3 linked regions of the Homo sapiens genome follow. The protein of the gene in region 1 binds, or shares a complex with, the protein of each later gene. Each region holds a gene or a part of one and is shown on either strand. Other genes may lie near its edges.

What was found.
Region 2: OS9 (region 1) and FAM8A1 share a complex: the UniProt entries of both Homo sapiens proteins name them as parts of the HRD1 complex.
Region 3: OS9 (region 1) and UBE2J1 share a complex: the UniProt entries of both Homo sapiens proteins name them as parts of the HRD1 complex.

The regions. Positions count from the first base shown.
Region 1 is NC_000012.12:57,718,030-57,721,778, forward strand, and holds the end of OS9 (protein OS-9 isoform 1 precursor), read left to right. Parts: intron 1-116; coding exon 117-392; intron 393-963; coding exon 964-1,153; intron 1,154-2,069; coding exon 2,070-2,234; intron 2,235-2,376; coding exon 2,377-2,489; intron 2,490-2,754; coding exon 2,755-2,880; 3' UTR 2,881-3,528; downstream 3,529-3,749. UniProt on the Homo sapiens protein: Lectin component of the HRD1 complex, which functions in endoplasmic reticulum (ER) quality control and ER-associated degradation (ERAD).
Region 2 is NC_000006.12:17,598,201-17,601,949, forward strand, and holds the start of FAM8A1 (protein FAM8A1), read left to right. Parts: upstream 1-2,101; 5' UTR 2,102-2,209; coding exon 2,210-2,921; intron 2,922-3,749. UniProt on the Homo sapiens protein: Plays a role in the assembly of the HRD1 complex, a complex involved in the ubiquitin-proteasome-dependent process of ER-associated degradation (ERAD).
Region 3 is NC_000006.12:89,339,115-89,342,863, reverse strand, and holds part of UBE2J1 (ubiquitin-conjugating enzyme E2 J1), read left to right. Parts: intron 1-408; coding exon 409-540; intron 541-3,749. UniProt on the Homo sapiens protein: Catalyzes the covalent attachment of ubiquitin to other proteins. Functions in the selective degradation of misfolded membrane proteins from the endoplasmic reticulum (ERAD) and is essential for cells to recover from ER stress.

The sequences.
Region 1 (3,749 bases):
TGGGACTCAACTCCTGGGTCCCCCAGTACCACACACCTGCTACTGTTTGTCTGCCCCCGACCATGTGTCTCTGTTGAAACCCCAACTGTCTTTCTCCCCACTCCCTACCCACCCAGGGGAAGCCAAATATAGGCCAAGAGCAGCCTGTGGATGATGCTGCAGAAGTCCCTCAGAGGGAACCAGAGAAGGAAAGGGGTGATCCAGAACGGCAGAGAGAGATGGAAGAAGAGGAGGATGAGGATGAGGATGAGGATGAAGATGAGGATGAACGGCAGTTACTGGGAGAATTTGAGAAGGAACTGGAAGGGATCCTGCTTCCGTCAGACCGAGACCGGCTCCGTTCGGAGGTGAAGGCTGGCATGGAGCGGGAACTGGAAAACATCATCCAGGAGGCAAGCCCAGCTCTTCCTCCTGTTGCTTCCACAGCCGCCTGGTCCCGTGGAGCAGGACAGGCTGACGGGCTAAAAGAAACAGAGGGCACAGCACAGGGCAAGGACGGGGCACTTGGAAGTGGTAGCTGTTTCCCTAATTAATCGGGGCTGTTGGGGAAGGGGGACCAGAGAGAGGGACAAGACTTAAATATCAGACTCTCTGGCCAGGCGCGGTGGCTCACGCCTGTAATCCCAGCACTTTGGGAGGCCGAGGTGAGCGGATCACCTGAGGTCAGGAGTTCAAGACCAGCCTGGCCAACATGGCGAAACCCTCTCTACTAAAAATGCAAACAAATTGGCCAGGCATGGCAGTGGGTACCTGTAATCCCAGCTCTTTGGAAGGCTGAGGCAAGAGAATCGCTCGAACCCGGGAGGCGGAGGTTGCAGTGAGCCGAGACGGCACCACTGTACTCCAGCCTGGGTGATAAGCAAAACTCCATTTCAAAATATCAGACTCTCCTACAGAGCCCAGCCCGCTGGCTGCCTCCACACCCCAGACCCTTGACTCACTCTCTTCTCTTGGGTATTCCAGACAGAGAAAGAGCTGGACCCAGATGGGCTGAAGAAGGAGTCAGAGCGGGATCGGGCAATGCTGGCTCTCACATCCACTCTCAACAAACTCATCAAAAGACTGGAGGAAAAACAGAGTCCAGAGCTGGTGAAGAAGCACAAGAAAAAGAGGGTTGTCCCCAAAAAGCCTCCCCCATCACCCCAACCTACAGGTGAGAGCAGTCAGACAAGAAAGAGTAGCCCAGTCTGTTGTTTTCATCCCTCAGCTGGTTCTGTTCCCAGAGGGGACCCTGTTCCTTCCCTTCTGAGGGTGCTCATTCTCTCCCCACTTTCTGGAACACTGTCCTCACTTGCGCCTGCTTCCCAACACCATCATCCCTTTGCGTGTTTACCTCCTATTCATCCCTCTGGGAAGCAGCTTTTAGAGCATATCTGCTGGTTTTCTGGTTTGCTCCTGTACACCCAGTGCCTAGCACTCTGCCTGGCACACAATGGATGATCAGTAGCTAGTAATTGAATGCTTGTGAGTCTATATGCTGAAAACCACTTTAGGACTTTGCACCAAGAGAGGCCCCAGCTGTCAGGGCATGAATAGGAGAGCCCAGCTGCACATGAGCCAATAGCTTGGATAGACTTTAAATTATTTCTTCTTCTTGTATCCCCTTGTGTCCATTTCATAGTGTCCTATGGGTGTGGACATCAGATATTCTAAATGGAATGTTCCAGTTTCAAACCTTCCATTCCCACTCTCTCTATAAACATTGAAATGTCTTTAAAGTCCCAACATATGGAGGAGGAGACCACACTTTTCCAACCTGCTTCTTCAAACAGAACTTTGTTGGTGCAGGTGGCCTGATTTTGGCTTTAGAAAACATTTGTTTTCCTATAGGTGACGGGCAGAATTATTGGGTAGGGCGGGAAGATGGAAGGCTGCAATTGGTGGAGGGAGCTCTACAGGCTGAACTGGGAGGGGCGGGGCACACATTTTTTTGAGCCCTGGCTCATATACATGTTGAGATGGAAGAGCTGCCAAAGCCAACTGATGTTTTAGGGGGAGATGACCCCCACACCCCTAACCCTGGAGTCACGCCTCTGCTTTGTGTTTCCCTGTGTGTCTCCCCCTCTAAGAGGAGGATCCTGAGCACAGAGTCCGGGTCCGGGTCACCAAGCTCCGTCTCGGAGGCCCTAATCAGGATCTGACTGTCCTCGAGATGAAACGGGAAAACCCACAGCTGAAACAAATCGAGGGGCTGGTGAAGGAGCTGCTGGAGAGGGAGGGACTCACAGCTGCAGGTGGGCCCTGGAGGGCGGCTGGACCCAGTGCTGTCGGAAGGGCAAGCTGCCGGAAGTGGAGGGGCTGGGACCAGTGGGGCAGGGGGCCTGCCCTGAGGCTCCCAACCATCCTCTCCTCTCACTGCATACTGCTCCTTTCCAGGGAAAATTGAGATCAAAATTGTCCGCCCATGGGCTGAAGGGACTGAAGAGGGTGCACGTTGGCTGACTGATGAGGACACGAGAAACCTCAAGGAGATCTTCTTCAATATCTTGGTAAGAGGCTTCTACCCCCGAGTCCTGGCCCCCAGCCCTCCTGGAGTGGAGGTGCGGGCTTGCCCCAGCCACGCCATTGCTGAGCTTCCATTTCCTGATCTGTAAGACAAGGCTGGGGTTCCAGTGGCTCAGAGTGCTGCCATGCAGGAAGAGCCCCTCAGGACATGGGTGTCCTCATTCCCTGCCTTCCCCCAGCTGCCTGGCCCAGGACTTCCCTGGGCTCAACGGCCAGTAGCTCCAGCCCACCTCTACCCTCTCCCACCAGGTGCCGGGAGCTGAAGAGGCCCAGAAGGAACGCCAGCGGCAGAAAGAGCTGGAGAGCAATTACCGCCGGGTGTGGGGCTCTCCAGGTGGGGAGGGCACAGGGGACCTGGACGAATTTGACTTCTGAGACCAACACTACACTTGACCCTTCACGGAATCCAGACTCTTCCTGGACTGGCTTGCCTCCTCCCCACCTCCCCACCCTGGAACCCCTGAGGGCCAAACAGCAGAGTGGAGCTGAGCTGTGGACCTCTCGGGCAACTCTGTGGGTGTGGGGGCCCTGGGTGAATGCTGCTGCCCCTGCTGGCAGCCACCTTGAGACCTCACCGGGCCTGTGATATTTGCTCTCCTGAACTCTCACTCAATCCTCTTCCTCTCCTCTGTGGCTTTTCCTGTTATTGTCCCCTAATGATAGGATATTCCCTGCTGCCTACCTGGAGATTCAGTAGGATCTTTTGAGTGGAGGTGGGTAGAGAGAGCAAGGAGGGCAGGACACTTAGCAGGCACTGAGCAAGCAGGCCCCCACCTGCCCTTAGTGATGTTTGGAGTCGTTTTACCCTCTTCTATTGAATTGCCTTGGGATTTCCTTCTCCCTTTCCCTGCCCACCCTGTCCCCTACAATTTGTGCTTCTGAGTTGAGGAGCCTTCACCTCTGTTGCTGAGGAAATGGTAGAATGCTGCCTATCACCTCCAGCACAATCCCAGTGAAAAAGGTGTGAAGCACCCACCATGTTCTTGAACAATCAGGTTTCTAAATAAACAACTGGACCATCAATCCATCAACCTTTTTTGTGGGGTGGGGGTTCCAGCAGGGAGAAGGCTCAGTGTTCTTTTCAGATCATGCTCTGATCCTGTTCTTTGCTCCCCATTCCCCAGGTACTATAAACGGGGGCTGGGGTATGCAGGAAGAGACCAGGGTAGCTAAACAAAGCCTGGCCTGGCAAGGATTGAAAGAAACACTTGCAATGCTGTCATCTTCCTTTTCTCATCTGTCTG
Region 2 (3,749 bases), on another chromosome or scaffold:
AAGCAAAAGATTTTTCCCACCTTCTCCAACCCTCCTGTCTCAATCCCATTCTTCCCCCCACCCCCACCCACAAGGCTAGTCATAGAAACTGGAATCCGTCTTTCCCAAAGCAGGGCATAGAAACCAAAACCCCACCCTTTCCCAAAGCCAGCCACAAACCTAAAAATATTACTCTAACCTCCCTGCACCCCTTTCTGTGCAAATATTGGACATAGAGAAATTATCTGGCAGAGCGCAGTGGCTCACGCCTGTAATCCCAGCACTTTGGGAGGCCGAGGCGGGTGGATCACCTGAGGTCAGGAGTTCAAGACCAGCCTGGCCAACATGGTGAAACCCCGTCTCAACTAAAAATACAAAAAAAATTAGCTGGGCGTGATGGCGGGCGCTTGTAATCCCAGCTACTTCGGGAGGCTAAGACAGGAGAATCACTTGAACCTGGGAGGGGGAGGTTGCAGTGAGCCGAGATCGCACCATCGCACTCCAGCCTGGGCGACAAGAGCAAAACTCTGTCAAAAAAAAAAAAAGAAGGAAAAGAAAAATTATCTGACCTACCTTGTTTAACTGTTGTAGGCCACAGCCCCCATTCCAGAGGGTCCTGTTCCATACCCAGAAGGAATGAATGCTGCAGACAGGCCAAGGAGAATCCAGATAGGCCTTGCTGGGTTTCTTGCCTGTTTGCATCAGAGTGTTTTTTGTCCAGTCATTTTTTTTGAGACGGAGTCTCGCTCTGTCGCCCAGGCTGGAGTGCGGTGACGCAATCTCGGCTCACTGCAAGCTCCGCCTCCCGGGTTCACGCCATTCTCCTGCCTCAGCCTCCTGAGTAGCTGGGACTACAGGCGCCCGCCACCACGCCTGGCTAATTTTTAGTATTTTTAGTAGAGACGGGGTTTCACTGTGTTAGCCAGGATGGTCTCGATCTCCTGACCTTGTGATCCGCCCGCCTCAGCCTCCCAAAGTGCTGAGATTACAGGCGTGAGCCACCGCGCCCGGCCTTGTCCAGTCATTTTTTTATACGGCTGTCCATGCTTTGTTGAACCTAAGCATACAAATACACGATTTCCCTTGTTATCTTTGGGTCTTCATTCTGAAGGCTCCCGTGTCACATAAAACGATGGTCAAATCAATGTCTATGTCTTTTCTCCTATTAACTGCCTCCTGTCAGTGACTTTCAGCGAAACTTCAGAAGGTGAAGCGGAAGTTTTCCTTTGGCCCGGACAGCATCATCATTAATATCATTAATAAATATTCCCACAGTATTTGGCCCTTGTATGTCCTTTGTATGGTGCTGGGGATACAATAACATATCGCTGCAGAGATTTTCAAATGTAAAAGAAGAGAGATTATACTGATTTAAAAGCTAGATTCTGTCCTCACCCTGGAGCTAGTCTGCATTTACGAAAACTTACTTTCCACTGCGGTAGACAGACGCTTTCTACTCCAGCGCAACTGTGCCTTTCCTCAAATCTAGTCTCAAATTTAGGTTCCTTTTCATTTTCTGTTATGGAAAGGCCCTCAGCGTATCCCAGGCTTTGGAGCCTTTTGTTAGTAGTCTGGCCCATGCATAATTTCCCCTTCCTCTGAATTATACATAGCACCTCACTAGTTATATTTTAATACACTTTCCTATGTCTCAGTGGTAGTTTCCTATATTAATATATATCCCAGTTTAGTTTGGCTTTTAATTTCTTTTCTTCTAAGGGGATAGATGCGTTCTGTACCACCTTCTCGAGTACTAATGGTTAACTGGAATGAACACAAGCAACAAACCCTCCGGCCTGGATCCCAAAACAACAGTCGCGGTTCTGCAACAGAAAAGGCTGCGCTGGCCCTGGGACCTGTCTCGGAAATACTCCTCATCCATCTAGTTTCTCCCAGGACAACTAGGCCCAACCCCACGGGAATATACAGAGAGGCCTCGGGTCACAGACTTAAAGCTGTAAAAGGGAGGAGGCGACGGTCTGGTCCCAGTCACCGACCAGCCACCGACTACTAGGGCCCGAACCCGGGACTGCAGACGCACCTCCCCGCCCTCCCTTCCCAGCTCCGCCTGGCGGCGGGCGTTGCTCCTGAGGGGCGGGGCTTCCGCTTCCGGCGGGGGATTGTTGACGCCTGCGGTTGCTGCGGTGGTGACGGGGCTGTTGGGGAGGGGCCATTGGGGGAGGGAAACGGAGCAGTGACAGGTATCCCAGAGGGTGCTGCTGAGGCGACGATGGCCGAGGGGCCCGAGGAAGCCCGAGGCCACCCTCCCGGGCAGGACGATGGCGGAGGGGACCACGAGCCCGTCCCTTCCCTGAGAGGCCCTCCTACCACCGCCGTCCCATGCCCCCGCGACGACCCCCAGGCCGAACCCCAGGCCCCGGGCCGGCCCACAGCCCCGGGCCTCGCGGCTGCCGCCGCAGCCGACAAATTGGAGCCGCCGCGCGAGCTCAGGAAGCGCGGGGAGGCGGCCTCCGGCTCCGGTGCAGAGCTGCAGGAGCAGGCGGGCTGCGAGGCGCCCGAAGCCGCGGCGCCACGAGAGAGACCAGCTCGGCTGAGCGCCCGCGAGTACTCCCGGCAAGTGCACGAGTGGCTGTGGCAGTCCTACTGCGGCTACCTCACCTGGCACAGCGGCCTGGCCGCCTTCCCAGCCTACTGCAGCCCCCAGCCCTCCCCGCAGAGCTTCCCTTCGGGCGGCGCTGCAGTCCCCCAGGCCGCGGCGCCGCCGCCCCCGCAGCTGGGCTATTACAACCCCTTCTACTTCCTGAGCCCCGGGGCCGCGGGGCCTGACCCGCGGACAGCTGCCGGCATCAGCACCCCTGCTCCAGTCGCGGGCCTGGGACCCCGGGCTCCTCACGTGCAGGCGTCGGTCCGGGCCACTCCAGTGACGAGGGTAGGATCCGCAGCCCCTTCGCGAAGCCCGAGCGAGACCGGGCGACAGGCAGGTGAGAAGCGCGAGGTGGAGGCTGGGCGGAGTAGAAGGGTTTTCGGGGGCCTGTGGGGTAGAGCTGGCACGCTTTTTAGACCTGTAACTGCTGCTTCTACTCTGATTGACTATCCTGCCCGTTCAGTTCACTAGCTATCGTTTGTCCAGGCCCTAAATTCCCAAAATGTACAAGGAGGCAATACAGTTTCTTCTTCCTTTAGACCTGGCACTCCAAATTGACTCCCTTACTCATGGGACTAGTTGTTTATTCGTGAAAAGAAATTGCTCTTCAAACCATCCTCTTCCTTTGGTTTTCACGCTCTGCAGTGAGGGCCAAAGCTAAATTCGCAAATGGCAAACCCACTTTTGGAGGGGCTCGACTGGTAATGCTGAAAATTATTCAGACATTGGCTACTTAGGACAGTGGAACTGAACGGATATAAAAGGAGATCGACATGGATACAAGTGGAGTTAGGAAGTTTTGATTGGGTCAAAGCTTCACTTCATTTGATCAATATCTTGTATATTGTGTAATTGTTTTTGCTTCTGTGTGTGAACTAGAATATTTTGAATTAGTTACACTTCTTAGTTTACTATTTAAACTATTAGACTTTTAGTTTATTTTAGTTAGCCACAGATAGATGGGACAAGAACTAGTTGATGCCTCTGATCCCAGTCAGAATTTAGGATGACAGATTGATACTCACTGGGTTTATTTTAAAGAAAGCAAAACAAACTAAAAAACGGGTGGGGGGGGATTACAGGGATTTACTTTATACTAATTGCCAATATTTAACCTTGATTTGTACTAAAAAATGTTTAATTTTGTGTGACTTAGATGTGATCA
Region 3 (3,749 bases), on another chromosome or scaffold:
ATAAGCTCTTAGGCATCTATAAGGGATAATTTTTAAAGATTTGTTAAAATAACCCAAACATAGTAATTTTTTGATTATATAATTATCATAATTTGCTATTCTTTCAAGGATTAATTTCCAATTTAAACCTGTAAGTTACTTATGAATATATAACAACACTCAGAAATTTTTAATGTGTTTATTATAAAATATTTTAGCTCAATGGAACATGAAAGCTAGATTAAATAGCTTTTACTTATAAATTTAATTTATCACTTATAGTCTCGAGACATCTCATGCATTAGAAACTATACTAGCAATAATATAAAGCATTTAATTTTTCTTGCTTGGTAATATTTCTAATATTCAGATAAAATGATCAAACTTTTCAATATTATTAATTCCTTGTGGATTATTGTTTTTGTTCAGGATAACCTTTTTGAATGGCACTTCACGGTTAGAGGGCCCCCAGACTCCGATTTTGATGGAGGAGTTTATCACGGGCGGATAGTACTGCCACCAGAGTATCCCATGAAACCACCAAGCATTATTCTCCTAACGGTAAGAATTTTGGATTTTTAGAGTGCTTGTGGCTTCACTCTTCCTGGTAGCTGCAAAATATAGTAAGCAAATCATTTTCATTAAGAAATAATAGAACAGTATAATTTTGCTTTTGGGGTCCAGGCCCTGGGACTACAATTTTTTTCCTCCAAAATAATTCCTAGGAAGCTGATGCATCTGAGAAGTAAAAATGATACAACTGAATGCATAAATGTCATATCATGGTTGTTAGGATTCAATGAATTAATATATGCCAAGTGCTGGGCATACACATCTGGCACTTCATAAGTACTCACTAAAGGGTAGCTAATGTTATTGTACCTTGTAATCATATTGTCTCCTTTAACTTCCCACCTTTCTTACACTCTCTTCCTCAGTTTTCTCATCTTTACAATGAGAATAATGATACCTACCTCATTGAGTTTATGTGGGATGAAAAGTATCAAGATCTTATTGTATAGCTCTTAGAATAGAGCCTGACACAGAATACTCAATAAGTGTTAGCATTATTATTACTGTTTATATCTCAGATTTTCTCTCTTTCTCTCCAAATTTACACATCTTTTCTTCATGTGAAGGAAAACTTTTTTTTTTTTTTAAGAGACACGGTCTTTCTCTGTTGCCCAGGCTGGAGCGCAGTAGCACGATCATAGCTCACTGTAGCCTCAAACTCCTGGGCTCAAGCTATCCTCCCACCTCAGCCTCCTGAGTAGCTGGGACTATAGGCACATGCCACTGCACCCAGCTAATTAAAAAGTTTTTTGGTAGAGACATGGTCTCATTGGTCTTGAACTACTGGCCTCAGGCAGTCCTCCCATCTCAGCCTCCCAAAGTGCTAGGATGACAGGTGTCACCATCATACCTGGCCAAGGAAAACTATTGATCTAATTCCTCTTTAATTGTTAAGCTTTTCTTCTCTCATTTCCTTTAACTATGTTTAATTATCCCCTAACCTTGAAAAAAGCAAAAACAAACACAAAAACCATTCCCTGTATCTGTTATCACTTTAAGCTGTGCCTATTTTTCTCTTTGGTAACCTCCAAGGCATCCTTTCCGTAGTTTGGCCTGCTGCAGTCCACCTTCCACACATAGTGCCCTGTTGAAACATGAAACTACACCAATCTCAGAGACCAGTTTGAGAAATCTCACTGCTTCTCCTCAGCCTTCATCCTGTTCTCAGTTAAACATCTTACCCACACGGAGTAGCAAATGGTGAAACAACAGGTATTCATCAATAAATACCAAATTAGGCCGGGCGCGGTGGCTCACGCCTGTAATCCCAGCACTTTGGGAGGCCGAGGCGGGTGGATCATGAGGTCAGGAGATCGAGACCATCCTGGCTAACAAGGTGAAACCCCGTCTCTACTAAAAATACAAAAAATTAGCCGGGCGCGGTGGCGGGCGCCTGTAGTCCCAGCTACTCGGGAGGCTGAGGCAGGAGAATGGCGTGAACCCGGGAAGCGGAGCTTGCAGTGAGCCGAGATTGCGCCACTGCAGTCCGCAGTCCAGCCTGGGCGACAGAGCGAGACTCCATCTCAAAAAAAAAAAACATAAATAAATAAATAAATAAATAAATAAATACCAAATTAATGCTGCTTTTACCTCTATTTTGTATAACAGAGAGAACATTTGTTTAAGAGCCAATAGGCCTAGATTCTGACTGGTGCTCTTTCCATTACACTATGGGTGGGTTACACAATGTCTTTAAAATTGTTTTCTCATCAGTCAAAATGAATGTTGTGTTTGGTAATTGTAATCACACCATAAAGTACCTGACATATAGAAGCTGCTTAATAAGTATTAGCTGATATAGAGAACTGCTAATGCTGGCAGTAGAGTTGGAGCAGGGTCCTGGAGACACTCTACTGTGTCAGGAGTCATTTTATTTAGTTGCTAGATCATGGGGAGAGCTAAGTGGTCTTCGGGGAGGGAGGGGCTGGTGCATGGGGAGACTGGTGGTGGTGGAGGACAGTAGTTAGCAGCAGCTCTTTACCAACAAATACAGGTATATTTCAATAGTTAGCCAATGGTATGGTCATACTAACCACACTGGCTGAGAATCAGCCCTGATTTTCAACATTACACTCTTTCTGGTTCACTTCTTTTTTGAAAAGTCTTCTCCAACTTTCATTCAATAAGTATTTATTTATCCTTTCATTCATCACTCCTCTGAAAATCACACCTCTCTCAGAGCCTTTCTCCCCATGTCTTTCCTCACTAACATCTAGTTAGGTGATACTGAGTCCTTAGGTTTCGTCCTGGCCTCTTGAATGTCTTCTCTTTTAGATTCTTTTTTTTTTTTTAACTTGAGATAGGGTCTCACTCTGTCACCCAGGCTGGAGTCCAATAGCATGATCACAGCTCACTGCAGCCTTGATGTCCCACACTCAAATGATCCTCCCACGTCAGCCTCCTGAGTAGCTGAGACTATAGTCACACATACCACGCTTGGCTAAATTTTTTTTATTTTTATTTTTTGTAGAGACAGGGTTTCACTTTGTTGCCCAGGCTGGTCTCAAACTCCTGGCCTCAAGTGACCTTCCTACCTTAGCCTCCCAAGTGCTGGGATTACAGACATGAGTCACCATGCCTGGCCTCTTTTAGATTCTTAACTGAGCCTAGCTCCATACTAGGCACAGGGTAGGACATTAGTAAATCCTCTCCCCTCCCCTCCCCTCCCCCACTCCTTCCCTCCTCCCCTTCCCCCTCCCCTCTCCTTCCCCCCTCTCCTTCCCCCTTCCCCTCCCCACCCCTCTTCCCTCCCCATCCCTTCCCCCCTCCCCTCCCCACTTCCCTCCCTTCCCCCCTCCCCTCCCCTCTCTCCTCCCCCATCCCCTCTCCTCCCCCCTCCCCCCCTCTCCTCCCCTCCTCTCCTCTTTTTTTTTCTTTTCTTGGGGACAGGGTCTCACACTGTCACCCAGGCTGGCATGCAGCAATGCAGTCATAGTTCACTGTGGCCTTGAACTCCTGGGCTCAAGTAATCTTCCTGTCTTAGCCTCCCAAGTAGGTAGGACTAGAGGCACATGCCACCACTCCTGGCTAATTTTCTTTCTTTTCTTTTTTTGGTGACAGTGTCTCACTAAGTTGCTCAAGCTGGCCTTGAACTCCTGGCCTCAAGTGATCCTCCTGCCTCAGTCTCCCAGAGTGCTAGGATTACAGGCGTGAGCCACTTCGCTGGCCAGTAAAACTTTACATGTTAATTATTTAGA